Linked DNA regions of Homo sapiens. Each later gene encodes a partner of the first gene's protein in a complex. Each region holds a gene or a part of one and is shown on either strand. Other genes may lie near its edges.

What was found.
Region 2: DDX46 (region 1) and SF3B1 share a complex: the UniProt entries of both Homo sapiens proteins name them as parts of the 17S U2 SnRNP complex.
Region 3: DDX46 (region 1) and SF3A3 share a complex: the UniProt entries of both Homo sapiens proteins name them as parts of the 17S U2 SnRNP complex.
Region 4: DDX46 (region 1) and HTATSF1 share a complex: the UniProt entries of both Homo sapiens proteins name them as parts of the 17S U2 SnRNP complex.

The regions. Positions count from the first base shown.
Region 1 is NC_000005.10:134,753,797-134,761,788, forward strand, and holds the start of DDX46 (probable ATP-dependent RNA helicase DDX46), read left to right. Parts: upstream 1-4,982; 5' UTR 4,983-5,142; coding exon 5,143-5,159; intron 5,160-7,992. UniProt on the Homo sapiens protein: Component of the 17S U2 SnRNP complex of the spliceosome, a large ribonucleoprotein complex that removes introns from transcribed pre-mRNAs.
Region 2 is NC_000002.12:197,397,026-197,404,045, reverse strand, and holds part of SF3B1 (splicing factor 3B subunit 1), read left to right. Parts: intron 1-281; coding exon 282-461; intron 462-1,010; coding exon 1,011-1,097; intron 1,098-1,219; coding exon 1,220-1,490; intron 1,491-1,915; coding exon 1,916-2,061; intron 2,062-2,157; coding exon 2,158-2,304; intron 2,305-2,520; coding exon 2,521-2,646; intron 2,647-3,109; coding exon 3,110-3,331; intron 3,332-3,611; coding exon 3,612-3,794; intron 3,795-3,879; coding exon 3,880-3,991; intron 3,992-5,007; coding exon of another isoform or gene 5,008-5,077; intron 5,078-5,464; coding exon 5,465-5,585; intron 5,586-5,929; coding exon 5,930-6,061; intron 6,062-7,020. UniProt on the Homo sapiens protein: Component of the 17S U2 SnRNP complex of the spliceosome, a large ribonucleoprotein complex that removes introns from transcribed pre-mRNAs.
Region 3 is NC_000001.11:37,973,005-37,980,024, reverse strand, and holds part of SF3A3 (splicing factor 3A subunit 3), read left to right. Parts: intron 1-491; coding exon 492-560; intron 561-969; coding exon 970-1,037; intron 1,038-1,197; coding exon 1,198-1,305; intron 1,306-3,071; coding exon 3,072-3,141; intron 3,142-7,020. UniProt on the Homo sapiens protein: Component of the 17S U2 SnRNP complex of the spliceosome, a large ribonucleoprotein complex that removes introns from transcribed pre-mRNAs.
Region 4 is NC_000023.11:136,492,604-136,500,600, forward strand, and holds the start of HTATSF1 (17S U2 SnRNP complex component HTATSF1), read left to right. Parts: upstream 1-4,988; 5' UTR 4,989-5,081; coding exon 5,082-5,267; intron 5,268-6,994; coding exon 6,995-7,175; intron 7,176-7,554; coding exon 7,555-7,602; intron 7,603-7,997. UniProt on the Homo sapiens protein: Component of the 17S U2 SnRNP complex of the spliceosome, a large ribonucleoprotein complex that removes introns from transcribed pre-mRNAs.

The DNA.
Region 1 (7,992 bases):
CTGAAAGTTTCTTTTTTTTGAGACAAGGTCTCACTATGTTGCCCCTGTCGGAGTGCAGTGGCATGATCAGGGCTCACTGCAGCCTTGCTTTCCCAGGCCCAAGCAATCTTCCCACCTCAGCCTTGCAAGTAGCTGGGACCACAGGCATGTGCCACCACCCCTGGCTAATTTTTGTTTTGTTTTTTTCAGAACAGAGTCTCTGTCGCCCAGGCTGGAGTGCAGTGATGTCAGTCTCAGCTTACTGCAGCCTCTGCCCGCCCCCCGGGCTGGTTCAAGCGATTCTCATGCCTCAGCTTCCCGAGTAGCTGGGATTACAGATGCATGCCACCACATCTGGCTAATTTTTTGTATTTTTAGTAGAGACAGGTTTCACCATGTTGGCCAGGCTGGTCTCGAACTCCTGGCCTCATGTGATCCACCCACCTTGGCCTCCCAAAGTGCTGGGATTACAAGCGAGAACCACTGCGCCTGGCCTGGGAATTGAAGTTTCTTAGTGTTTGGAATAGTTTAAAACGTTTTTTATTTGGAAATTTCTGGGTTTTGAAATGTATATGGACTGGCTGGGCACCATGACTCATGCCTGTAATGCCAGCACTTTGGGAGGCCGAGGCGGGTGGATCACTTGAAGTCAGGAGTTTGAAACCAGCCTGGCCAACATGGTGAAACCCTGTCTCTACTAAAAAAACCAAACCAAAACAAAAAAAAATTAGCCAGGTGTGGTGGCGGGCGCGTCTGTAATCCCAGCTACTCAAGAGGCTGAGGCATGAGAATCACTTGAACCCGGGAGGCAGAGGTTGCAGTGAACTGAGATCGCGCCACTGCACTCCAGCCTGGACAACAGAGTGAGACTCTGTCTCAAAAAAAAAAAAAAAAGGTATATGGATTAAAACTAGAGGGACAAGGATGGTTGTTTAGAGGTGACATCTTGACCATGTAACCTAGTAGTTTTTTTAGTTCAATTAGTTGTGTAAATGGACATGTGTCATCACAGTTGGCACTAAAAACAGCAAGTGGGTTATTAGATATTCAATACTGGGTTAGTAAGTCAAGTCACAGTCAAAATCTGCTGCTTTGGAAAACAGGTTAGTTTACTGAAAGTGATGTATTAGAACACAGACTATAGTCATTTCTTTCACCTATCTAAATAGATAAAATCTTCCAGCCTCACACCTGTAATCCCAGCACTTTGGGAGGCCGAGGCAGCAGATCACCTGAGATCGAGAGTTCGCGACCAGCCTGACCAACATGGAGAAACCCCGTCTCTACTAAAAATACAAAATTAGCTGGGAGTGGTGGCTCATGCCTGTAATCCCAGCTATTTGGGAGGCTGAGGCAGGAGAATCGCTTGAACCTAGGAGGCAAGGTTGCAGTGAGTCGAGATCGCGCCATTGCACTCCAGCCTGGGCAACAAGAGTGAAACTCCGTCTCTAAAAAAAGAAAAAAAAAAGCCTTCCTCCAGGACAGACTTGATGTGAATTTACTATAAATATATTGTGGTGGAGTGGGGGTGGTGCACACCTGTAATCCCAGCACTTTGGGAGGCCAAGAGAGGCAGATCGCTTGAGACCAGGAGTCCAGGAGTTTGAGACCAGCTTGGGCAACATGGCGAAACCCTCTCTATGAAAAATACAAAAGTTAGCTGGTGGGGTGGTGTGTGCCTGTAGTCCCAGCTACTAGCTACTTGGGAAGTTGAGGCACAAGATTCGCTTGAACCTGGGAGGAGGCTGCAGTGAGCCGAGATCACAGTACTGCACTCCAGCCTGGGCAACAGAACCAGGCCCTGTCTCAAAAAAAAAAAAAAAAAAAAAAAAAATATATATATATATATATATATATATATATATAAAATATATATTCTATATATATTATATTAATGTAATATTAATTAGAATATATATTATATATATAAGAAATATTTAAGCCAGTTAGAATTGTCTTGTTAATGTGTTGTCTTAAAGGGGAGTTGGAAATAAAGTATCTTGAAGACAGCTCTGGCCTAAGTGTCAGATCTCTGGACTCTAGTTCCAGGTTAGATTCCAACAAGGTTAGTGATCTAGGATGAAATATGTTTCCTGAGTCTCAGTTTTGTTACTTAAAATCAAGAAGTTTGAGTTTGTGATTTTAAAAATCTATAACATTAATCCCATGATTCTTTTTATTATTATTTTTTGAGACAGAGTCTCGCTCTGTCGCACAGGCTGGAGTGCAGTGGCGCGATCTTGGCTCACTGCAACCTCTGTCTCCCGGTTTCAAGTGATTCTCATGCCTCAGCCTCCCGAGTAGCTGGGATTAGCACGCACCACCACACCCAGCTAATTTTTGTATCTTTAGTAGAGACATAATTTCACCATGTTGGCAAGGCTGGCCTTGAAGTCCTGCCCTCATGTGATCCACCCGCCTCAGCCTCCTAAAGTGCTGGGATGACAGTCATGAGCCACTGCATCTGGCCCTAATCCTGTGATTCTAAGCAATATTCAAATTGTGTTAATTTCAAAAATTAAGGACTTATTTCCATTCACTTCTGCATGGCCTCATCCAGTCCATGGCTTCAAATACTGTGTATTATACATTCTATAAAATGCTGAGGACCCATATCTCTCCCGCCTCTATTTGTAGCTGTTATTTCCTGGATGTCTAGTAGGCACCTCAAATATCACATGACTGAAACAAACTCAATGACTTTCTCTATTTCCTCCACTAAATCTGTTGCTTCCATGCTTTTCTCATCTCCACAAATTCACCACAGTCCACAATAGCTCTGTTGAAAACCTGGCAGTCATCTTTTATTCCTTCCTTTCCGTCATAGCTCACATCCAGTTTATCTATTGGCGCTTTGAGAGCTGCTTCCAGAATACACCCAGAATCTGATCACTTCTCAGTCTTCATTGTTTAAGCCACTGGTGGTTTTCTATGTCTTTTAGGTTGAAATCCACATTCCCTACCTGCAGCCCACATCCAAACAATTTACAGGGGGATTCCTAACCCTCCTTGGTGTCCATCCTGTCACTCATTAATTAGCTCAGGCCTTCTTACCCTTGGCATGGACTGCCAGAACCTCCAGTCTCTATCCCTCTTCAATGCTTCTCGCAGCTACCACAGGTGGGCAGCAAGCCACGGGGGGCGTGGGGAGCATAAACTCATCTTGGAGTGTCACTCGTTGGTTTGCTTTTTTTCTTTAATCAACTATGTTGAGGTAAAATTTACATACAATAAGTCATGTACAGTTAAAGGGTACAGTTCAGTGAATTTTGAAAAATGTGCAAATCTATTCAATGACCACTAAAATCAAGACACAGAACTTTTCCATCATCTTTAGGTGTAAGAAAGTAAAATAGTACAGAGGCAAGTAAAGTAAAAATATGAGCCTTTCTCCAACTCCATTATAGCTTTTTGCAAAAACAACTCAACATGGCCGGGCACGGTGGCTCATGCCTGTAATCCCAGCACTTTGGGAGGCCGAGGCGGGCAGGTCTCCTGAGGTCGAGAGTTCAAGACCAGCCTGACCAACATGGAGAAACCCCATCTCTACTAAAAATACAAAATAAGCTGGGGTGGTGGTGCATGCCTGTAATCCCAGCTACTTGGGAGGCTGAGGCAGGAGAATCGCTTGAACCCAGGAGGTGGAGGTTGTGGTGAGCTGAGCTCTCACCATTGCACTCCAGCCTGGGCAACAAAAGCGAAACTCCGTCTCAAAAAAAAAAAACAAAAAAAATTCAACATTTCTGTGTGTGTTGCATGAGACAATACATATACATTTTTTTGGTGCCCAAACTCTCGAATAATGTTCTCAATCTTGACTGTACTTCAGAATTACCTGGGAAGCTTAAAAATTCCCAGTGCACAAGAAGCACTCCAGGCCAATTAAATCAGAACATAGGGGTGGAACCCAGGCTTCTATTTTATTTACTAATATTTTAGAGATGAGATTTCTCTGTGCTACCCAGGCTGGAGTCATCATAGCTCACTGCAGCCTCAAACTCCTGGGCTCAAGTAATCTTCTTGCCTCAGCCTCCCTGGCTCAAATGATCCTCTCACCTCAGCCTCCCAAGTAGCTAGAACCACAGGCGTGCCAGCACACCTGGCTAATTATTTTGCTTATTTTTTGTAGAGGGTCTCGCTATGTTGCCCAGGTAGGTCTTGAATTCCTGGGCTCAAGCCATCCTCCTGCCTCGGCCTCCCAAAGTGCTGGGATTATAGGCATGAGCCACCATGGCTGGCCCTTTTTTTGTTTTTTTGTTTTATTTTTAAGCTTCCCAGTGCAAGCAATGTTGAGAACTAATCTTTTGCCAAAGTATTTTTAGCTCTTTGTTCTCTACTAGGTTAACACCTACCGGGTCTTCAAATCTCACCTCAGAGTTCACTTCCAAGGGAAACGTGTTTTCTGAATCCGTCTCCAATGGTGGACTCTCCTTGCTGTATTACTTCTGCTTGTGTTTTTAGTCAAGTCTATTATTATTACTATTTTCTTTGCAGAGACGAGGGCTACGTTGCCCAGGTCTTGAATTCCTGGGCTCAATAGATCCTCCCGCCTCAGCCTCCCAAAGTGCTGGGATTTCAGGCGTGAGCCACTGTGCTGGCTTTAGTCATCTGTTTCCCGGATAGACTGTGAGCTCCCCAGGATCTAGCACAAGCCTGGCATATGACAACATAAATAAATGAGTGAATGTATACATGAATAAAGAGCGTGTACGGAGAAAGTTGCCGCATTATTTAGCGCAAATTAAGGCAGACATCAGCCTGCCCAGGACGCCTCTTTGGCTCTGGCGCGAAACACCCTCACGGGCCGGCGAGGCTGACGCGCTGCGCTCCATCGCACTAATCAGCCGGGCGTGGTGCGGGCGCCGGGAAGACTGGGCGGGGCGAAGGCATCACCTTTCGATGGGGCCGGCGCTGTGCGTCCTCCAGTCGAGGTGGGGCGCTGTGGAAGAGCGGCAGCTTCCGGTCGGCTTTTCTCTTCCTTCGGCTGCCGGCGCCAGCACGTCCTGTTTTCGTTGGCCGCGCTGGGATGGCCGCCACAGCTGTAGGTGCTGCTAGTGTTTAGCGCTGGTCTTTGCCGGGCGTTGAGGGCAGCTCAGCCTCCTTGTTTGTCCGGTTCGCCTGTGCGTGGTACTCAAGGGCACCAGTATTCCCGCGGTCGGCAGCATGGGTCGGGAGTCACGGTGAGGCAGAGCGCCGAGCGGGCTAGCGGGCGAGCGGCTTCTTGGGGTCGTGAGAAGAGGCGGGAGTTGAGGTGGCCGCCGGGCCAGGCCTGGCGCGGCCCCACGTGCGGTCAGCGCTGCCCCGCGAGCATTGGAAGGGCTGGGGGACCTCGGCTGAGGGAATGGTTGTGTTTGGGCCAGCGACGGCTTCCCCTGCACTACCATCAGAGGGTTCGAGCCCCTGGAGCGGGAACAACCCTCCAGGACGTTAGTGATTGGGCACCACATCCCGCCACTTCAAGGGAGCCTGCCCTGATTACTTCAGTCAGAAGTGATCCCAGTTGGATTGCTTATTGCTTCGCGTTTCCAACATTTCCTCGACTCCTGTCATTCTGTATTTTAGTTCTTTGTGCGCGTATGATCTTTTCCCAAGTTACTTGAAAGGAGCGTGTGGGCAGACATTTTTACCGCATCGACAGCACTATACACGACTAGGCTTTTACTGGGCTACAATAAATACTTGTTGCGTGGGCATTTACTTCGCAAATAGATTTCGTATTTAAGCAGGTAACTTTGTTACCTGCTTTTCTGTCCTTTTGAAGTTGTGGACTATGAGCTCTTATTAGAACTCATTAGATCTCATCACAACTTTAGATTGTTGATAGATTGTTAGGAACCTTGAGATTTTTATGTTAAAAATGACTATTTGCTATGTATTTAGCAATGACTGAAAGATATTTTATGTCTAGGAACAATGAAGGCTTTTGTTGTTAGTGCTAACAGTTCTTTGTTGAGGTACAATTAACAATCAGGGAAATGGACAAAACGTAAGGGTAAAGCTTGATGAAATTTAGCAAATATATAAACCGTGTAATCATCACCTGGATGAAGATAAAAAATATTTCTTTAACTACAGAAAATTCCTGTGACGGTGTTTTAAATCTCCGGAAGGCTGTCCAGACCAGAAATCTGAAAGTGATATTTATTTGACTCATTCTTCTCTCTCACTACCCACAGCCTGTTAGATTCTACATCCTTTGCCCATTCTGGTTGTCCCTGACTTAATTGAGGCCCTAATTATTTATTGTCCAGACTACTACATCTGTTTTAAATTGATTCTCTGAATTGATTGTCTTCCTCTGTTGCTCTCCTAATTGTTAGATCCCTTACACTACAGCCAGAGTGACACTTCTGAAGTAGAGATAAGATGATGGCATGCCCCTGACTTAGTCTCCATTGGTTTCTACTGCTTCCAAGATGAAATTTAAACTCTATGACAGCCTTCAAGGCCCTTCACAAGAAGGTCCATTCTAGCCCGTCAGCCTTCTCCTTTACCTCTCTGGTGTGCATGGCCTGTGCTCTAGGTTTGTTCAGGGAATCATGAAAGGCTTAGAGGTGGGAAGGCGCAAGGTGTTAGAGAAATAGCTAAAAAGCCCAATTTTTCTGCATATGTAGGTTTCATGAAGGGATTTTATCTTTTTTGAGAAGTAGTAGGAGGTAGGTCCTGAATAGGACTTGGGCCCAGAAAGCGGGTGGATTGTAGATTTTGAAGATCAGAATTTGTTTGTGAACCTTTGAAGATTTTGAGTAAAAAGTGTGTAATAGAATCAGAATTCTCCTTAGCAGCAATGAGTAAGATTTAATGGAAAAGTAATAGAAACAGGAAGACTACAGTCTTTAAGAATCTCCTAGGTAGATATGTCTGATATAGAATAGTGACGGTTGGAACTCTGTGGAGGTGATATAATGTGAAGGGAATTACAGAGGTGAAATTGGTATTACTTGGTTGTTTTTTTGTTTTTGTTTTTGTTTTTGAGACAGAGTCTCGCTCTTTCGCCAGGCTGGAGTGCAGTGGTGGGATCTCGGCTCACTGCAAGCTCCGCCTCCAGGGTTCACGCCATTCTCCTGCCTCAGCCTCCCGAGTAGCTGGAACTACAGGCGCCTGCCACCGCGTCAGGCTAATTTTTGTATTTTTTAGTAGAGACGGGGTTTCACCGTGTTAGCCAGGGTGGTCTCGATCTCCTGACCTTGTGATCCACCCGCCTCGGCCTCCCAAAGTTCTGGGATTACAGGCGTGAGCCACCGCACCCGGCCTGTTTTTTTGTTTTTGAGACAGGGACTTGCTCTGTCTCCCAGGCTGGAGTGCATTGAAACAATCTTGGCTCACTGCAACCTATGCTTCCCAGGTTCAAGAGATCCTCCCACCTCAGCCTCCCGAATAGCTGGGACTGCAAGCGTGTGCCACCACGCTTTGCTAATTTTTGTATTTTTTGTAGAGACAGGGTTTCACCATGTTGCCCAGGCTGGTCTCAACTCCTGAGGTCAAGCTCTCTGCCCACCTTGGCCTGCCAAAATGCTGGGATTACAGGCATGAGCCGCTGTGCCCAGCCAATTGGTGTTTTATTTATTGTATCGAATGAGAGCAAGAGAAAAATATTGATGATGACTAATGTTTTGAGCCTAGTGACCGGAAGTTGGTACGATTAATCGTTTGGGGAGGGAAGGGTAACAAGTTTGGGTTTCTACAGATTGAACTTGAGGTGCTTGAGAGATAATCAGGTGCATTCATCTCCTAGTGATCTTATTTAGGTTTATAGCTTTAAATAGCCTTTGTACACTAATAGCTGTCCAGTTTATATTTCTAGAGAAACCTCTTCCTTGAACTACAGGCTAATATTTCAACTATATACTATATATCTCCACTTGGATACCTAATATTCTGATCCACCTTCTCCCTGGATTTCTCCCTCAGCCTTCCCATCTTGGTAAATGGCAACTGAGTGATTTCTCTCTTGCTGTCACACTTGACATTTAGTTCATCATTAAATCCCATCGGTGCTAGCTTCAAGATATC
Region 2 (7,020 bases), on another chromosome or scaffold:
CCTTGGAAATGGAAGATACTTCAGGGAAATGAAGGCATTTAGTACATACCTCTGTGGTTCGTTCTATTAAATTACTCTTTTGAGTTAACATAAAATTTCTATCACAGGAATTGAAATTCCAGAGTAATTTGGATGGAAATGAACTCATGCTGTCTATGTAAAATGTGTGTAAAAGTAAACACTAAAATATTAAAGTATGGAAAATCTTCTTTGAGTAATTTGCTCATTCAAAATGTTTGATTATAAAGAAACCACACCTATTACTCTGCTCTTTTTCCCAGGCTGCATTGCGTCAGATTACTGATAAAGCTCGTGAATTTGGAGCTGGTCCTTTGTTTAATCAGATTCTTCCTCTGCTGATGTCTCCTACACTTGAGGATCAAGAGCGTCATTTACTTGTGAAAGTTATTGATAGGATACTGTACAAACTTGATGACTTAGTTCGTCCATATGTGCATAAGGTTTGTTCTCCTTAATAGTGTTTCTGATAGTTTAAAGTTTTAACTTTTTCAGTTAATCAATGTTAAATTTACATATTCTCCTAGACCTTTTCCTTTGCACAAGTACACACCATACATGTACAAATACAGTTTTATACAGATGTACAGATGTTAGTTTTTGTCATCTTTGCCGTAAGAGGTTCATATTATTTAATTTTTTCATTTGCTTTTATTAAAATTAGATTAGGATGAGAACATATGAGAACTAACGCCAGTTAGTATTAAGAACCAGTTTTTTCACCGATGGTAATTATGGTGCAGTATGTTCATAGGGTGTATAAGTTATTTCTTTAAAAAATATTGAATATTAGTGTGTCACTAATAGCTCTCTTAAATTTTCATCTCTGTCTGGAGTTTGAACTTGTATAATTAAAATTCTTAAACAGTTCGTCCCTTGATTAACAAAAGTCCTGATAATTCTAAATTTCTTATGTATGTTTAATTCTGTACATGAGCATTTCATCAGTAATTGATGTGAAAGTGTAGCTTCTTCTCTTTTCTCTTTTTCAGATCCTCGTGGTCATTGAACCGCTATTGATTGATGAAGATTACTATGCTAGAGTGGAAGGCCGAGAGATCATTTCTAATTTGGCAAAGGTATTTACATTTAATTTCTAGAGAAGAAAATTTATATCTGTTTATGGAATTGATTATGGAAAGAAATGGTTGAAGATTAATATTACCAACTCATGACTGTCCTTTCTTTGTTTACATTTTAGGCTGCTGGTCTGGCTACTATGATCTCTACCATGAGACCTGATATAGATAACATGGATGAGTATGTCCGTAACACAACAGCTAGAGCTTTTGCTGTTGTAGCCTCTGCCCTGGGCATTCCTTCTTTATTGCCCTTCTTAAAAGCTGTGTGCAAAAGCAAGAAGTCCTGGCAAGCGAGACACACTGGTATTAAGATTGTACAACAGATAGCTATTCTTATGGGCTGTGCCATCTTGCCACATCTTAGAAGTTTAGTTGAAATCATTGAACATGGTAAGTTGTAATGTAACTTTGTCTTTTTTTTTTTTTCTTTAGGAGACAGGGTCTTACTATGTTGCCCAGACTGGACTCAAACCTTTGGGCTCAAGTGATCCTCCTGCTCAGCCTCCTTAGTAGTTGGGACTAGAGGTACACACACAGCCTGTCCATGTTTAATAGGACAGCTGTCCTAAAATTTGGGCTACTGATTTGGGGAGATAAATGGAAAGGCATAGCTCTACAAACTATAGATTTTATGATGGGTTTGTTATATTATCTGCTGACAGGCTATGGTTCATGTTTTGCTTTTACCTAATTTTGTTTAATGTGAACATATTCTGCAGTTTGGCTGAATAGTTGATATATTGAGAGAATCTGGATGATATTGTGTAACTTAGGTAATGTTGGGGCATAGTTAAAACCTGTGTTTGGTTTTGTAGGTCTTGTGGATGAGCAGCAGAAAGTTCGGACCATCAGTGCTTTGGCCATTGCTGCCTTGGCTGAAGCAGCAACTCCTTATGGTATCGAATCTTTTGATTCTGTGTTAAAGCCTTTATGGAAGGGTATCCGCCAACACAGAGGAAAGGTAAATCCACCAATTACCTTTTGATTTATCTTCATTAAAGTTAAGGCGACATAAATCTAAATTACTAAAGTACATATATTTTTTATTTAAAAATAGGGTTTGGCTGCTTTCTTGAAGGCTATTGGGTATCTTATTCCTCTTATGGATGCAGAATATGCCAACTACTATACTAGAGAAGTGATGTTAATCCTTATTCGAGAATTCCAGTCTCCTGATGAGGAAATGAAAAAAATTGTGCTGAAGGTAATTATTCCAGATTTGTTAATGTAAACTGGATATGTTTCATGGTTCTAACAGAATTTTAAAGTGTTTTTAAAAATCAACAAAAAAAACTGTATGTTACACGAATACTGTTTGATTTGTTTTTAAATTTTATTTTTTAAAATCACGTAATCAGCAATGAGTATTCTCTTCATTTCAGGTCAGTTGATTTATTATTACTATTTCTTAACCTTTTAGGTGGTAAAACAGTGTTGTGGGACAGATGGTGTAGAAGCAAACTACATTAAAACAGAGATTCTTCCTCCCTTTTTTAAACACTTCTGGCAGCACAGGATGGCTTTGGATAGAAGAAATTACCGACAGGTAAGCTTTTATTGTAAAAGAATATTCTCAAAAGTCCTTTCAACTCATTCTTTAGTCAACTTGAATGCATGTTGTATATTATTTTTTGCCTTGATTATCTCACAGTTTATATGTGCTTGATTATGAAAGGAGATGGATTTTAGTCAGCCAGTTAACTTCCATTTTGATTTTGGATTCGAGGATTAATACTTAACTGTGAATTGATGTTTTTGTCTGGTACATTCAGTGCTTTATCTGGCTAGATGAAACATGGACACAGTTTTACCTTGAATCATGTTAACTTATACTCATTTTTCGATGTTTGGTCACTTTTCTCTTCAACTTTAATAAGTAGCAATGAATCATTCTTACCATGTTTATTAGCTAAATAAGTAGTATATTTAGAGTATTTGGTTTTCATGATGTTGCTTTATTTCCTTGGAAAAGCAGTCTAAAAGGTTTTTTGTTTTTCTGTTCTTTTTAGTTAGTTGATACTACTGTGGAGTTGGCAAACAAAGTAGGTGCAGCAGAAATTATATCCAGGATTGTGGATGATCTGAAAGATGAAGCCGAACAGTACAGAAAAATGGTGATGGAGACAATTGAGAAAATTATGGGTAATTTGGGAGCAGCAGATATTGATCATAAACTTGAAGAACAACTGATTGATGGTATTCTTTATGCTTTCCAAGAACAGACTACAGAGGTAATGAAAACTATTATGGCACATTGCTACTAACTTTAATATTTGTAGAAAAGCATATTAGTTGTCAAGCAAATTTTTCTAGAATGCAATTGAATTTGAAGTAATTTTTAAAATGCTCAGGGGGTTACCAAACGATATTATTCTACCTCAAGTTTTAAGATTTGATGTAAAAAAACAGCAACAGATGTTTGGGTGGTTAGAAAAGGTTGACTCTTAGTGTATTTCAACTGTGCAGTCATAAACCAAATGAATATGTCTTTTTTTTAAATTTATTTTTTAGGACTCAGTAATGTTGAACGGCTTTGGCACAGTGGTTAATGCTCTTGGCAAACGAGTCAAACCATACTTGCCTCAGATCTGTGGTACAGTTTTGTGGCGTTTAAATAACAAATCTGCTAAAGTTAGGCAACAGGCAGCTGACTTGATTTCTCGAACTGCTGTTGTCATGAAGACTTGTCAAGAGGTAAACTTTTGCATCAAATTCTTACTTCTTCCCCAAATAGTTTAATGTAAATAGTAACATTTTAACATTATTTGTTTTATTATAGGAAAAATTGATGGGACACTTGGGTGTTGTATTGTATGAGTATTTGGGTGAAGAGTACCCTGAAGTATTGGGCAGCATTCTTGGAGCACTGAAGGCCATTGTAAATGTCATAGGTATGGAATTTGCTGGTTACATAAGACTTTTTCTTGTTTTAACTTTCTTTTTCTTTTTTTTTTCGTAAGTAAAATCTTATTTAGGAGTTGGGAGGTTTTTGTTAGCTTTTTAAAAGCACTTCAAGATTGTAGTTAAGTCGGGGGATGTCACAAAAGTCTTGTTTCCCAAAACCCATTTATATTTTACTTTAAAGAGAAAAAAAGGGTAAGTTTAGGACCTACATGAGAGGTGGGAGTAGTCACAGCTCAAAAAGCTTTGAAGTCATGGAATACAGGACCCTAGTAGAAATAGTGTGTCAGGTGAAATATATTCTGCCATGTTCTGCTGCGGGGTGAAAAGGCAATCCTAAAGTTTTAATTTAGTTTTAGAACAATATATATATATTTAAACCTTGAATTAGCGATTATGACAGGTTTTTTGCTTGTGATCAGTTTCAAGGAATATAATCAGAGAAAAGTGAACTGATCAAATTATTGTCTTTATTTACATACCCAAGTTTTAAATACTGTCCATTCAGTTTTCTAACCCGTAATACAGCTATATTACAAATGGTCTTGGATATGGAGAGCAAAGTTTTTATTCCATTAGGGCAGTATGAAGAAAACAAATGGTTTCTTATATTTAATCTTTTTTTTAAATTGATTATAACTGTTGCCAAATGTAACTCCTGCAGAGTTTAGAGGCTCTGATAACCTAGCAGAAGTCAAAATAGCTGACTGTGAGAGAGCCACTGTTTGTTTTTCCTCATTTTGTAAGAGGTATTTATGCGATACACATGTTTAAACTATTGTATTTGCATATAATCTCCAATGCAACCCTATCCTCTATACTTGAAGATAGCTACTTGCCAGAAATCATTTACATGGCCACTTGTAGGGCTCTGGTTTGCAGGGAGTTTTAAACCATATTGTTTGTCAGAGAGGCATGGGAAGAGCAATGGAGAGAGAATCAGAGCAAGTGATTCTAGTTAGAGCAAGAGCCCCTGCCAGCTGCCTCCTTTTTTCTCTCTTCGTAGGTGTAAATACCATCCAAGTATGCCCTGCATTGCAGGGAGACTGGAGATCTGTTTGTTTTGCAGTTAAAGGGTAAGGGGGCCCTTTCTGGAAATTTTTGCTTTATTTACATGTTTACCTCTGGCTTATATTGTTGTGTATGGCCGGAACATAAGCTGTCCCCATATTTAAATGTCAGTGCACAAATATATTTCAGAATCAAACAAAACTTTTTTGTTATTGAGTATCCATCATCCTTTAAATCACTTCACTGATTTCTTTCATTTCTATACATAATCAAAAATTGTTAATAAAAGTTAAAAACGATTCTGAGTCTGGTCAGAATCTGGGGCTTTCTCTTTCCCTAGGCAGCTGTAAGTTTATATTTATACATAGTCATATATGACATTGCTAAGTAAAAGGAAAGTGAACAAAAGTTGCAATTCAAATGTTGATAGTTTATTGACTTCTATTAAATAGGTATGCATAAGATGACTCCACCAATTAAAGATCTGCTGCCTAGACTCACCCCCATCTTAAAGAACAGACATGAAAAAGTACAAGAGAATTGTATTGATCTTGTTGGTCGTATTGCTGACAGGTAAGCAGATTACCCACACATTTTTATAAGCAGTATCAATTTTCAAATTTGGCCACTTTGTATTCAATTAGCAAAATTTCCTTAATGTCACTAATATAAGTGTAAAAGATTAGGCTATCCAGTATTAATATTTTCAGTCAAATTTCAATTTGGATGGTAATGGGGGTGGCAATGTAATTTTAGGACTAAACCTGTAAGACTAACTCTTCAGCCTTTCTGAAGAGTAGTAAGTTTTATTTAATGCTTAAAATGAGTTAATCATGTTTTTAGAACTGAATTTGCAAATTTATCCTTAAAACTTTTCTTAATGTCACAATAATTAATATGTGTATTTTTTAAATTAGGGGAGCTGAATATGTATCTGCAAGAGAGTGGATGAGGATTTGCTTTGAGCTTTTAGAGCTCTTAAAAGCCCACAAAAAGGCTATTCGTAGAGCCACAGTCAACACATTTGGTTATATTGCAAAGGCCATTGGGTGAGTGTTATTTACTTCCATTAAAAAAAAATTACTTTATAATAAATGCATTGTGGTATTGGAAAATACTTCCATGTAGAAATCTCTTTTGAGGCATGGTCTGAATAATGCAGTTGAGAAAGCTCTTCATTTAACCACTGACCTTCTGATTATTGGAATGTATTGTTAAATTCTTTTTTTTTTTTTTTGAGACGGAGTCTCGCTCTGTCACCCTGGCTGGAATGCAGTGATTCAATCTCGGCTCACTGCAACCACCGCCTCCCAGGTGCAGGCGATTCTCCTGCCTCAGCCTCCCCAGTAGCTGGGACTACAGGCATGCACCATCACGCCTAGGTAATTTTTGTATTTTTTAGTAGAGATGAGGTTTCACCATGTGGGCCAGGCTGTTCTCGAACTCCTGGCCTCAAGTGAGCCACCTATCTTGGCCTCCAAAAGTGCTGAGATTACAGGCGTGAGCCACTGCGCACAGCCTGTAGTCTTAAATTCTTAATTAAAATAGATGGAAGGGTTTAAGACTTACTTTAATTACACTTTAGGTGTTTTCAGGGAGGGAAACAGTACCATTTTCAGAAAAATTTAAAATGTGTGCTGGTCTTCTAGGATATTGCTTAAACTATTAAGGCAAGTTTTTAGTCTCACAACATCATTTAAGTCTCATATTAATGCTTTATATGTTTTAAAAATCTTATTATGGATTGTTTGAGCCCAGGAGTTCAAGGTTACAGTGAGCTGTGATTGTGCCACTGCACTCCAACCTGGGCATCTGGGCACCTGGGCGACAGGGCGAGACCCTGTCTCTAAAAAAAACAACAAAAATGCTATTCTAACATTACTCCACGGATTTAACTGAATTATAGCTGCTTTGTGAGATAATCTGTGGTGGTTTGCTTCCACTCCATCACAACTAAAATAGGAAAAAACAGTCATTGTAGAAAACGAGACACCACATGTCCATGTGG
Region 3 (7,020 bases), on another chromosome or scaffold:
AGCTTATCAGATCATATGTTAGGAATCTACATTCTCACTTCTAGGGATAAACATGAGTTTTTCCTGAACTCTCCAGGGAGAGAATGTGGACAAACCTTAGCTTCATCCTAAACCTGGTGGGGTTTTTTTGTTTTTTGTTTTGTTTTGTTTTGTTTTGTTTTTTGGGAGACAAAGTCTCCATCTGGCTTCTAGGCTGAAGTACAGTGGCATGATCATACCTCACTGCTGCAGCCTCAACCTTGTGGGCTCAAGAGATCTTCCCACCTTAGACTCCTGAGTAGCTGGGACCACAGGCACATGCCATCATGCCCAGCTAATTCAGATAATTTTTTGTAGAGACAAGATTTCACCATGTTTCCCTGCCTGGTCTCTAACTCCTGAACTCAAGCAATTCACCTATCTTGGCCTCCCAAAATGCTGAGATTACAGGTGTGAGCCACCACACCTGGCCTAAACCTGGATCTTAATAAATACCATATTGTTCTTTCCAGAAAGAGACAAGCAGTGCCCTGACCCATGCTGGAGCCCATCTTGACCTCTCTGCATTCTCCTCCTGGGAGGTATGTTTCCTTCAGCAGTAGTAGTGTTCTCTCTGTCTATTTTTCTGTCTTTAAAGACTGCTCTCCTGTCTTTAATACCATGGTTGTGTTGTGATAAGGCACTATTTCTTGAGATCAAGCATCTACAAAGAAAGTAGCAAGGCAAAAAGAAAAAAATTACTACTTGGGAAACTGAAATAATTATTCTAACTACATTAAGCCGTAGTAAAGTAAATGGAACACTATCAGTATGGTTAAGTCTGAAGATAACTATAGATTCAGTCCTCTGGAGAGTTTAGACTTACTGCTAGATTGGCTGTGAAATGTGTGGTCCTGCCACAGCCTCAGGAACACCCACCCTCTGGCCTGCATTTGGGGTTTCCCAAAAATCTGTTAATGTAATATTGTAATTTTTCTCTTCTTTGTATAGGAGTTGGCTTCTCTGGGTTTGGACAGATTGAAATCTGCTCTCTTAGCTTTAGGCTTGAAATGTGGCGGGTAAGGAATAGTTTTTCTATCAAAACTATCGATTTACTGTGTGTTTGCACAGTCTTCTAAGTAGCTCTGATTCCATTTTTTTTGTTGCTCCACACTGCAAAAATAAGCCAGCCTGTGTGGTAAAGTAACCCTAAAATCCTTTGCCGTCCTGTCTCCTTAGGACCCTAGAAGAGCGAGCCCAGAGACTATTCAGTACCAAAGGAAAGTCCCTGGAGTCACTTGATACCTCTTTGTTTGCCAAAAATCCCAAGTCAAAGGGCACCAAGCGGTGAGTGGCTGGGGTAGCACTGCTGCTTGTGGCTTTTAAATGTTATTCCCATGCAGAATTTTTAACCACAGTGGAGACTTTAAAGCCTGCTTTATCTCCGTTATTGGTTGACAGAGATCCAGTCTGCTCTTTATCTCTGCTAATAGCAGAGAGTACTATCACTGTTAATATAAACCAAGGACCGTCTGTATTCATCTGATTGAGAGCACATCAAGTTTCTAAATTTGAAACCATATTCATGGCACCTTTAATAGGTTATGGAGGCTAAAAGGCTAAATAGGTTCAAAACCTATTTTTCTAAGCTTATTTTTGGTAAAGTTGAATCTAATTCTTGAGCTACATACTTATACAAGGTATTTTCTTTTTTCTTTTTTTTTTTTTTTGAGACAGTCTCACTCTGTTGCCCAAGCTGGAGTGCAGTGGTGCAATCTCAGCTCACTGGAACGTCCACCTCCTGGGTTCAAAAGATTTTCCTGCCTCAGCCTCCTGAGTAGCTGGGACTACAGGCACGCACCACCACACATGGCTGATTTTTTGTATTTTTAGTAGAGATGGGGTTTCATCATGTTAGCCAGGCTGGTCTGCAACTCCTGAGCTTAAGTGATCCACCTGCCTTGGCCTCCCAAAGTGCTGCGATTATAGGCGCGAGCCACCGTGCCCGACCCAGGGTTGTTTTTTTTGTTTGTTTGTTTTTTTCTTTTTTGAGATGGAATCTCGCTCTGTTGCCCAGGCTGGAGTGCAGTGGCACAATCTCGGCTCACTGCAAACTCCGCCTTCTGGGTTCAAGTGATTCTGCTGCCTCAGCCTCCCGAGTAGCTGGGATTACAGATGTGCAACACCACATTGGCTAATTTTTGTGTGTTTTTTGTTTGTTTGTTTTTGAGACGGAGTCTTCCTCTGTCACCCAGGCTCAAGTGCAGTGGCGCAATCTCGGCTCGCTGCAACCTCCACCGCCCTGCTTGAAGCGATTTTCCTGCCTCACTCTCCCGAGTAGCTGAGATTACCAGAGTGCGCCACCATGCCTGGCTAGTTTTTGTATTTTTAGTAGAGACGGGGTTTCACCATGTTGGCCAGGCTGGTCATGAACTCCTGACCTCAGGTGATCCACCTGCCTCAGCCTCCCACAGTGGTGGGATTACAGGCATGTGAGCCACCGTGCCCAGCTAATTTTTGTATTTTTAGTAGAGAGAGGGTTTCACCATGTTGGCGAGGTTGGTCACAAACTCCCAACCTCAAGTGATCGCCAGCCTCAGCCTCCCAAAATGCTGGGATTACAGGCATGAGCCACCGAGCCTGGCCCAGTATTTTCTTAATGTACGTTTTTTTCTAATTCTCACAACAACCCAGAAAATTAGTTGTTATCCTGAGTTTTTGCAGATAAGGACTCAGAAAAGTTATGGAATGTGTCCACTCTCTCATAGTTCTAAGTAGCAGAGTCAGGATTTGGGCCTAGGTCTACCTGCTGCAGAGCTTGCTCTTATATACCACATTTCCTTTGTAGATTATAATGATGGAAATGTAAGCGGTCTTGATGTGTCCTTCATCTTCTAAGTGAGGTCATAGAGGAAGCCTCCATGCATTCTGAGAAATACCCTCAGTATTTGTCAGAGAGTCCTGAGATGAACAGAGCATTTGCTTTCATAGCATCGTATTTCTCATGTGCTTATAATTTTTAATGCAGTTGTGCAATAAATGTTCCCAGATATAGGGAACAAAACAATGGATGAGAGAATCCTTGAGTGAAACAGCTTGTTTCTTTTTCTCAGAGACACTGAAAGGAACAAAGACATTGCTTTTCTAGAAGCCCAGATCTATGAATATGTAGAGATTCTCGGGGTAAGTGACTGACTGCTGAAAGTGGAAAATGGTATAAAGCACAGGAGTTAAAGGGAGAGGAACTCACAGAAGATACTTTTTCATTAGGTTCAAAAGAGGAGTGGATAGCTGATAAACTAGTATGGCACAAAATAGAGGTCAGGGTACAAGGCTCTTCAGTAAGTTCCTATTCTGTTGTTAGATGATACTCCCAAAGTTGCCCAATTCCCATAAAGCCAGTCATGGAGAATAGAGTCCCCTCACAATATAATGTCCAGAATAGTGCAGATTCTGTGCCTGAGCTTTAGAAAATACTCAGGAGTAGCCCACAAAGCAGACACTCAAAGGGCAAGTAACAGAAAGGCTACTCAAAGTGGCCTTTCAGTTATGACTTATGAAAAGGCATTTTCATAAGTCATCTCATGTAAGTCAACTTACATGTTCATAAGATTATGAGAAACTTAGTAGGGCTAGAATATTATTAGTACAAAGCTGGCAGTGAATGTTCTTGAATATTTCAGGAGGAGCTGAAGTGTGGGTTGGGGTAGAGAAAGGCCTAGCCTGACCAGTATGCTTGTCTCAGAGAGAAAGCAGGGAGAGGAGTAGGAGGAAAAGAAATCTCTTTCCAGGAAGAAAAAGTGGAAGAAAGGGCAGCACTCATCCAGAAAAGATGATCAGTGTCTCTGGAGTCCTTCAGAAGACCAGCCTTTCTGATTGTGTCTGCTGTGTACAGTTTTTTTTTTTTTTTTGAGACAGAGTCTTGCTCTGTCACCCAGGCTGGAGTACAGTGGTGTAATCCGGGCTCACTGCAACCTCCACCTCCAGGGTTCAAGCAAGTCTCCTGCCTCAGCCTCCTGACTAGCTGGGACTACAGGCATGCGCCACCACGCCCGACTAGTTTTTTGTATTTTTAGTAGAGACAGGGTTTCACCATATTGGTCAGGCTGGTCTCGAAATCCTGACCTCGTGATCCGCTTGCCTCGGCCTCCCAAAGTGCTGGGATTACAGGCGTGAGCCACCGCGCCCAGCCCAATTTTTAACTCTCAGAGCCTTTCCCTTTACACATACTCGCATGGTCCGTTGAGTGGATGGCTCTGGATCAGATAGCTTGTTCACATATTTTTGTTAATTGCCGTGGACATTTTCATTCGGCCTTTGAGGACCATTCGTATAATAGCTGTAGAACTAGTCACCTGTGATTCTGTTATGACTGCTTTCAGTAAAAGGCTAGCTAGACATTGGACATTGGAGAGATATATTCTCCGCTGTGAACTTGGGCTGTGCTAGTGTGGACAGCAGGCTGAATTGCCAGTCTTGTGAGTGGCTGGGAGGCCACTCATGCCCTTGACATGAGATTTGTCCACCACTTTCTCCCTCTTTTTTTTTTTTGAAATAGTATCTCACTCTGTCACCCAGGCTGGAGTGCAGTGGCGGGATCTCAGCTCACTGCAACCTCCGCCTCCTGGGTTCAAGTGATTCCTGTGCCTCAGCCTCCCTGGTAGCTGGGACTACAGGTGTGTGCCACCACACCTGGCTAATTTTTGTATTTTTGGTAGAGACAGGGTTTTGTCTTGTTGGCCAGGCTGGTCTTGAATTCCTGGCCTCAAGTGATCCGCCTGCCTTGGCCTCCCAAAGTGCTGGAGCCACTCGACGGCCTCTCCATCCTTTAAGAGCATTTTGCTTTCCCTGCCAGGAGATGGCACTATTCTCTTCGGAATTCCAACCAGTTCTAGCCAAATACTTTCCAGAAGTTGCTCTCACTATGAACTGATAAGATTTTTGCCATTATTATACCATTTGTTGATGTCTGTTGGTTTTTGGACATTATGCAAATTTTTTTGATACAATAGTGAATAAGACACAGCCTCTTGCCCTTAAGAAACTCATTTTGTGGTTAGGGGAGACAAATAATTACAATATAATGTGATACATACCTGAATAAAGTGAGGTTGAGTCTTCTAAGTAGAAAGAGAGAAGGGAGAAGAAAAAGTTTCTGGTAGAGGAAACAGCAAACACAAAGATACAACAGTATTAGATAAAATTATATGTTCAGGAAATGAGAAATGCAGTGTGTGTGGAATATGGCTTATGAGGGAGGGAATGGTCGGAGAAAACTCTGTCAGAGAGTTATGTTGGAAATTTGGACTTTGCCTTATAAGCAGTAGGAAGCCAATAAAAGTTCTCTTAAGTAGGATAGCGTGCCACTACAGATTTGGGTTTTTAAACAGATAAACCTGGTAGCAAAATGGAAATTGGATTGGAATGAGGAGAGACTCAAGGCAAGTTAGAAAGTGGTCATCTTGGGCCGGGCGCAGTGGCTCATGCCCGTAATCCCAGCCCTTTGTGAGGCCAAGGCGGGCAGATCACAAGGTCAGGAGATCGAGACCATCCTGGCTAACACTGTGAAACCCTGTCTCTACTAAAAGTATAAAAAATTAGCCAGGCATAGTGGCGGGCATCTGTAGTCCCAGCTACTCGGGAGGCTGAGGCAGGAGAATGGCATGAACCCAGGAGGCAGAGGTTGCAGTGAGCCGAGATTGCGCCACTGCACTCCAGCTTGGGCGACAGAGCAAGACTCCATCTCAAAAAAAAAAAAAAAAAAAAAAAGTGGTCATCTTGGTGAGGAAAGGAGAAGAAAGTCCTGGTTAAGGAAATATTTTTTTTTTAATTTTTTTTTATACTTTAAGTTCTAGGGTACATGTGCACAACGTGTAGGTTTGTTACATATGTGTACATGTGCCATGTTGGTGTGCTGCACCCGTTAACTCGTCATTTACATTAGGTATATCTCCTAATGCTATCCCTCCCCCGTCCTCCAACCCCACAACAGGTCCCGATGTGTGATGTTCCCCACCCTGTGTCCAAGTATTCTCATTGTTCAATTCCCACCTATGAGTGAGAACATTCGGTGTTTGGTTTTCTGTCCTTGCGATAGTTTGCTCAGAATGATGGTTTCTAGCTTCATCCATGTCCCTACAAAGGACACGAACTCATCCTTTTTTATGGCTGCATAGTATTCCATGGTGTATATGTGCAACATTTTCTTAATCCAGTCTATTATTGATGGACATTTGGGTTGGTTCCAAGTCTTTATTATTGTGACTAGTGCTGCAATAAACGTAAGTGTGCATGTGTCTTTATAGCAGCATTATTTACAATCCTTTGGATATATGCCCAGTAATGGGATGGCTGGGTCAAATGGTATTTCTAGTTCTAGATCCTTGAGGAATCGCCACACTGTCTTCCACAATGGTTGAACTAGTTTACAGTCCCACCAACAGTGTAAAAGCGTTCCTGTTTCTCCACATCCTCTCCAGCACCTGTTGTTTCCTGACTTTTTAATCATCGCCATTCTAACTGGTGTGAGATGGTATCTCATTGTGGTTTTGATTTGCATTTCTCTTTGTAGATTCTTTGTAGTTCTTTGTAGATTCTGGATATTAGCCCTTTGTCAGATGGGTAAATTGTAAACATTTTCTCCCATTCTGTAGGTTGCCTGTTCACTCTGATGGTAGTTTCTTTTGCTGTGCAGAAGCTCTTTAGTGTAATTACATCCGATTTGTCAGTTTTGGCTTTTTTTTGCCATTGCTTTTGGTGTTTTAGTCATGAAGTCCTCGCCCATGCCTATGGCCTGAATGGTATTGCCTAGGTTTTCTTCTAGGGTTTTTATGGTTTTAGGTTTAACATTTAAGTCTTTTTTTCTTTTTCTTTTTCTTTTTTTTGTTGGAGACAGAGTCTCACTCTGTCGCCCAGGCTGGAGTGTAGTGGCATGATCCCAGCTCACTGCAACCTCCACCTCCTGGTTCCAAGCGATTCTCCTGCCTCAGCCTCCCGAGTAGCTGGGACTACAAGCATGTGCCACCATGCCCAGTTAATTTTGTGTATTTAGTGAGACAGGGT
Region 4 (7,997 bases), on another chromosome or scaffold:
AAGTTTATATATGCCAGTGAATCGTAAGGGAAGTCAAATGGGAAGGAAGGTGTAATAAACAAGATGAAACTTAAAAATCTCATTTGTTGTTTAATCACATCTGTGATGCTTCTAACTCCTCATATACTGTGATTTGCATAAAATTGTGTTTGTGTTTACTGTGTGGTGTAAATCTAGAGATACTTTGTATGTGAAAAGGGGATCACAAAAGAGAGAAAGCATCTCTTAGGCTATTTTCTTAAAAATAAACCTTCACAGAATGGCTGTCCTTTTCCATTAATCTGTATTCCATTGTAGCTGAATCTGTGCAGTTGAAATGAAAATGTTTTGGAGTCAGCGAATATAAAGCACTGAGTAAGGATCTGGGGCACAGTGCTTGCCTTACTGGGTCAACACTTACAACTGCCATGGATTAATAACTGGGCTAAGTTATCATTCACAAATATTGTTAGGAACTTGCCTTATTCATAGGCAGAATAAGTGGTCATGTTTATGGTGTCATTTGAGGACCTCTGTTGAAAAATCTGCAAACCTGCCACAGTGTCTGAAATTCTTCCTTTACAGAAATTCGTTTCTTTCTGGTAAGCAGTGCCCTCTTTCTAAAAACATGCAGAAGTACCATATGAAATCCCTAACCCCTGGGTGTGCAATTGTGATCAGATCATCTTCCTGCTTGACTTTATTAAACCCAATGGGTGCCTAAGTCCTGTAAGTGTATGGCCTAATTAATCTCTGCCCATGGAAATCAGATGGAAAGTTCTGATTTTCTATCCTGTGCTCCTACCTGCTAACATCATTCACTTGTTAATAATTATTGTTTTAAAAAAAAAAACTCTTGTCAATAGACGTGTCAGATTTAGACCTGTGGTTTCAGAAAAATTTTTGGAGCAAATTTAAACATGTTTGGCACTATAGGTAAATTTGTATTTAAAAAAAAAAACAATGTTTGAGTGTGCTTTTGGTAATGCTGAGCTTTCTTTAAATGGCTTGTGGAGTCGTGAACTTTTGCTAATGATGTGGCTCCAAAAGGTAATACATATTAACATTAGACTTTAACTTTCTGTAAAATTGGTTTACTTAAAGTTGGGCGGGGGGTGTGATACTGTATTAGTATTGTTTTAAAGTGGACACTGTAACACGTGTGGAAAAACAAATAAATATGAAATAAAGTTTTAAATGACTCTGTGTAACTTTATATTCTAAAAACAGTATTTCTGACAGAATATAACGGAACCCATTTTAATTCCAAAATGTTACTTTCAAGTCACAGAGCCCTAAAACAATCTTACTATTTTCCTCACTCTGAGTAAAAATTACATCTTTACTCTCCTAAACTCTAATAACTTTTCAGATATAACTTGATAAAAGTACCAGAATACTAAAGTGAAGACAGCTTTTTGGAAGTTCATAAAACTAGAACTCAAAGAACTTTTTTTTTTTCCATTCTCAGCAATCCTTAGGTGAGTTAGGGATATAAAATAATTCCCTAAATGGCTGTGTAGGGCATCAGCCTCCTTCCATCCGTAGTTGTAGTTGGCTTAAAATTCACAGCTTTGCTTTGATTTTTGAGAGGGTGGTCTCTTTTTCAACAGATTATCCTTGTCATGGCTAACCTTACAAGTAGGCCCTAATAGCCACAATTTTTTTCACACTGACTTTTGTGGTTCCAGAAATGTTTCTATGGAAAATTTCATTTCTTTGGAGAGAATTCTAAATGGCGTGGATAGCTGGGATATATACAAAATAAATTCTGTATACATCTCAGTGTTGCTCGGGGTCTTCCCTGACCCAAGACTTAAAACATGGAACATAATACAGTAATACTCCACAAAGCATGAAAACACAGTCACGAAGTTAGGCATTACCAAAACGTCCAGCAGGTAAGTCTTCATCATTGAAGGTGAAAGCACTACAAAACACTTAACGACTCGCTTTTCTGCTGAAAATAGCAAATTTGGGTTTGCAGAATTTCTGCAGTTTGAGTCATCTTAGGTCAGGAATTCATCGATCTTTTTGTCAGAAAGGAGTCTTTTTAGTTCCACTAAGCCTTGAGATTATAGGATGTGGGGATAGGAAAATTCCTGGACAGAGTGGGCTTGAAGGGACCATTTTTTAAAAATCTGATTTGGTATAGTTCAGTAATTTTTCAGAAAGAGTTCTTAGGCCAGATAGGTGAGTCCTATCTGGAGTGCAGTCTCTGCTTTTGTAGGTTAATGTATATTTATCCACCAAGAAGGCTGTGGCCTATTAGGGCAGAAGTACAACACAGATCACCCCATATAAAGGTCAGAGGGAAGAATGAAGCACATATTCAGAGAGAAGCCAGCTATGTAGATTCTTCCTAGGTCCAGCATCCCTTTATGTGGCCCATCTACACTGCAGTCCTGGAGTTTCAGTAGCCGCCCCTATCTTTATAACCCACCCCCCTTTTTTTTTGTTACCTCGAGTGTTTCTATAACTTGCAAGAAAAAAAACTTGTAAAAGACAGGTTACAAAGACAGAGATGCTTTCAGATTACCTCAGTCATTAGGGAGTTATTCTATGAATATGCAGGGAAATGAGAAAAAATAGGAACCAGGCCTCACAGAGACCACAGCATTGTGCAATTATAAACTGCCAGTTCTCACGACCAAACAGAATGCCATTACAGGTACAATGTGTGTACCTCTCAACTCCACTGCCTCACTAGTATAGTGACTCAGTGACCCTTCTTCGCTGCTTCAGCTGCTCCTCTCACCCGTGGGGAACTTCTCCACAGCAGGCCTCTGTTCTGCCTTTTACCTTCCCTGGGAGTATCTCCTTGCTTCTTTGCTACTCTGACCACATCCCTGTATGTTCCATACTCAAACTTTCTGGGAGAGGTTCTTACTGGCTCAGTCAAATCCAGTCTAGAATGCAGAGCTATCTGCCAGGTCACCACACAGACCCTGGGCAGCCTTTGGGCCAGGATGGCTGGGTGACATGGGACATAAGCATAAGGAACCCTTTAAGTCACCTGCTCAAAAGACGGTTGTGGTAGAGCCGGCACTCAATGATATGTGCAGTAGGGTGGTGTCGCATATTATCACCTATGCTGTGAACTCGGGAATGAAATGGGAGCCCAATAACACATTGCTGAAAACAGCTGTATGCTATTTTTGGATCCAGGAAAAAATATTTAGCAAAGTTTAAGCCTAATAAAACTCACATTACCTATATCATAAAAGTGCACACAAATTCAGTTCTCCAAGAGTTCCTGCCAGAATGAGAACTTCATGAAAAAGAAATGTAATTTAAAAAAAAACTAACCCAAACTATTAAAAACTGTTGTTATCGTTGAAACCATAGATTCACACAACTGGTGTGTGGGGAGCCAGGATTTTCTAGAAGTAGTACTCAACTGCTATGTTTAGAAGTGAAGGTCACTGGAATAGTGAAATAATTTCTTCTGGTAAGGTTTTCCCGGACCTCAAGCCCGGGTTATGATATTTATGTTTACACTAATGGGTTCCTTATTATTTTAATGAATTAGTATTTTTTAACAGCCGCTTTCATTTTTGTGCAGAAATATTGGTAAGTATAAACCACAAACAAACGTTTTTTGGGGTTTTCAATGTTTTAGTGTAAAGAGGACCTGGAACCAAAAAGTTTGAGAACTGCTGTCCTCCAGCATCTCATATCTGTCAGGTGCCAACCATCTTAATTCTGTCTCCCCTGAGCTGTGCCTGTCTTGTCAACTCCTGGGTCGCCAGAGCCTCACGCAGTGCCCTGCACTTAGTAGGGGCTCAATAAATACCTGCCCAACTTAAAAATATGGACCTTTTCCTTTTCAGCAATGAGTGTAATTCCTGAAAACAAAGTTCTGTTTAGAACAAAAAGTATGCTGTGTCTTTCTAAAAGAATGACAAAGAAGCGGAGTTTCCCGGCCAATAAAGCTGGTGTTTACACTGGGATGTTTACATTTATGCTTAAGTTTCAAGTTCGAAGCTCGAGCGCCACTGAAATCTGCAGTACAAGAGGCAGGCAACTGCTGCCCTTTCCATCCTTCCCACGGAGTCGAACTCCAGCCAGAGGAAGGTATGAGACCGATAAAGGAGAAGGCTGACACCAGAAAAAGAAAGTTGGCCCTTCTACCCCTCATTCGTTCATTCATTCGCTCATTCCGCATTAGACACCAGAGCCGGTGCCAGGAGTTTAGGCTACCAAGATGAACAAGATCCGGTGTCTATCCCCGGGTGTCGTAAAGAAACAAGTAAAAGACGCGGTTCCTGAGCGGGGGAGGGGCCTTTGGGCGAAGGAGGCGCGTCGTTTTCTCGAAGCCAGAGAAATTTGTCCTGTCCGCCCCACCCACTCCCCTAAGATGGCGCCCTCGCGAAACCCGCCCGGCCACCCCCGCGAGGGAATATTCCCACGCCTTCCTTCCGTTTCCCTCCCGGGCCGGCCGATCCGCCGGGGACCCCGCGGAGCTCAAGGCCCTTGAGGCGCCGCGGGATCCCAGTGGCCCTCGCCCCGCCCCAAACCCGACCCCGGTGGGCGTCGACGCGCAGCAGCAGCGGGTCCCCCCAACCCCGGCGCCCCGCCTCCCCGGGCCTCGCGCCGCATGCCGGCGTCGGCGCTTTTTGACGCCATAGTGGGCGTGTCGGCGCGACCCGCGACGTCGCCACGCGCCGACAATGGCGGCTGCGTCGGCCTGAGCAGGGCTTAGTTTAGAAGTAATTTCCTGACGTTGCCGAGGGAGCCGCAGTCGCCTCAGATCCGGTCGGCGGCGGCGGCGGTGGCGGCGGCGGCAGCGCGCCTGCGCGCTCCCGCAGCGCCCTGGACCTAGCGGCGGTGCCGAGGCCCGGCGGAGCAAGCCAGGTGGGCGGCGGCGCGGCCGAGCTCACAGCATCAGCGCGCGCGCGCGGTGGGCGGGCAGAGAGGGGGGCGGTGCAGCCGCCGAGCGGCCGCGATTTCCCGGGGACTGCTGGGGCGCAGCGGGGAGGCGGGCCGGGGGGCGGCGGGGCGCGAGCAGAGCGCGGTTGACCTCCCTTTCTCTGCTCAGCTCCAGCGTCATTTCGGCCTCTTAGTTCTTCTGAACCCTGCTCCTGAGCTAGGTAGGAAACATGAGCGGCACCAACTTGGATGGGAACGATGAGTTTGATGAGCAGTTGCGAATGCAAGAATTGTACGGAGACGGCAAGGATGGTGACACCCAGACCGATGCCGGCGGAGAACCCGATTCTCTCGGGCAGCAGCCGACGGACACTCCCTACGAGTGGGACCTGGACAAAAAGGCTTGGTTCCCCAAGGTAGGAGAGTGCCACGGGCGCCACTGCAGAGCGGGCCGCCTGGCCAGCCTCGCGGGGCACTCCTTTTACGTTTGCTTTGCTGAGATCCTTGGTCCTTGGTCCTAGCCCCCTTGAATAGCGACGCTTCTTTTTGTTGTGTTTGTTGGGGCACCGATGTGTAAAAGAACGTAAATCTTTAGGGTAGTGTCTTAAATGTAATTTTTAAGTCTTTTCTATGCTTTATTAATCTTGTCTGTGAAGGTCACAGTTGATTATTACATGACTGCTTTTTATTGCAAAGAGGAAAAATACCAAGAACAAATTTAGTAGCTGTCCATTTCTGGTAGCCAACCCCACTTGTCCTAGGAACTCAGATGTTTAGCTTATGTACTATGTGCAAAATGCAGTTTCTTGATTTCTTTTTTAAAGTAGCTGTTTATATAGCTTTACTAATTGAACTTTCTTTGCACCTTGCTTTACTTTCCTAGTAAATTTTGTCCCTAGGCATATATGTTTGAACCATATAACCACAGGAATAAGACTGGAGATACACAGAATACAGATGGAAAATCTGTGTATGTTTGTTTGGAATACTTGGAAATTGCTAAGTATTTTTATTTCAGCTTCGAAGTAAAATAACTAATGTTAAACTTGATTCTGTAAACTTTGTGGTAAAAGTGCCCTTTTAATCTGGCTCTCATGAGCAGGAAAGGGCACACTAATAGCACACAAATTGACTTGCAAGTCAATGATACAAAACCTGTCTCCACTGCGCGACTGGACTGCTATTGTAAAAATTCTTTTGCAACTTTTCTTTCCCATTCTGTATTTGTATATATATTCCAATCCCTCCAGATTGTTAAAATTTACGATTTCACTTCTGTGTTGGTAGTGCTAGTTTGAGTGCAGATTTGGTTTCTTCAGCATTCTGAATACTTTTAACAAAGGTGTGATAATGGATTAATGTGTGACTTTATCCTTTTATGTTGTTGAAGCCCATACCTCTTCAAACTTTGGGTTTTACATTTTCCCCATTCCATGCCTGCCTAATATTGATTGGTATGATGATATAACTATATTTCTTTCGTTTTGCAATAACGCTTTTCCCCCAAAGGGGAGGAAGATAGATATGAGTTGGATTTGTCTTTAATTTGTTCTGATACTAAAATATAACGTCATTTAATTTGTGATAAAGTTAAAATGAGCATTTAGTTTTACAATTGTTAACCCCATTCTTTATATACCAAATCAGAGTTCTGTTCTGTGTGCTCTCTGCATACAGATATTTAAGTACTTATTGTACATGTATATTGGTGCATCTGTACAGTAAGAGAAAATTGGATTCTGTGGTTAGATTATTCATTGACTGTTGGTTTTTATTGTTTTATTATCTGGTTCTTCCTTTGTTGTATGTATTTGTAGCCTTAGTCAAGTAGTGTAGAGAGGTAGTAATTAATAAATGAAACAACTAGAAAAGGTGCCAGCATCACTTAAAATGCTTTAAATCGTATCTCAGACTTTTGCATTGATCATCTAAGTACTTGTGTCTTATTTTTTATCACCGTATGCACAATTTTCTATAGAAGGTGACTATTCTTGCATTTATACCTTAATAACTACAACTATTATCCACAGAAACACTTTTGTGTTAAGTTGTATAACTATGCTGTAAAAACACAATTTAAACTTCTTATGAGTGGAAATAATTTTGAATTTCTCTGTCCGGGTCTGTTGAATTGCTTGTGTAGATTACTGAAGATTTCATTGCTACATATCAGGCCAATTATGGCTTCTCTAACGATGGCGCATCTAGTTCTACCGCAAATGTTGAAGATGTCCATGCTAGGACTGCAGAGGAACCTCCACAAGAAAAAGCCCCGGAACCCACTGATGCCAGAAAGAAGGGAGAAAAAAGAAAGGCTGAGTCAGGTAAGTGGTTCTAGCTTACAAATTTTAAGTGTAAAAATTAAAAATATGGGTGTGCATAGGTACAGTTGCTTTTTCGAGAATTATAATAGCTTTGAAGGAATAAGGTGAGTTTTTTCTTTAAGGTAGTGTCAGTTATAAAGAATCAAGATAAACTGGCCATCTTTTTTCCAGATAGGGCTCTAAAACTAATTATTTCTCAAAAGATTTAAATCTTTTGAAAGCTGGGTAGTGATTTGAGTTAGTTTATCTTGGTCTTTTAAGAGTAACAGAAAGGTCGTCCTGGAAGTTTCAAGAAACTGCTGCTTTGTCAAGATTCCATAATATGACTCTTATCTTTTTTTGCAAGTGTTTTATTTATTTAATTAATTTTGATTTCTAGGATGGTTTCATGTTGAAGAAGACAGAAATACAAATGTATACGTGTCTGGTATGTATAACTTTTTAAACAGGTTTAAGGTAGGAAATACTTAATTTTGAGATTTTTCACGAAGTGATTTTTAGCTTTCAGTTTCTCCAGAGTCCATTTTTTATCATTGTGTCATTTTTTGTTCAGCCATTTATATTAGTAAGGAATATGTGTGTTCATTACAGAACCAAGAAATTTAGTGTGTAACTTTGCATACCAACCTTTAGGCCTGGTTAATGTAACTTACAGCAGTGTGTCCCTTCCCATTCAGTGAGGCCCTCAAGAAAGCATAATTTTAATGTATATTTGAACACACAAAAATGTGAAATTTCTTCAGTTCCGTAAATGTAAAACTTTTACATACATTTAGAAAATCAACATTGCATTCACCTAAGTTATAGATTTCTAATTGGTAG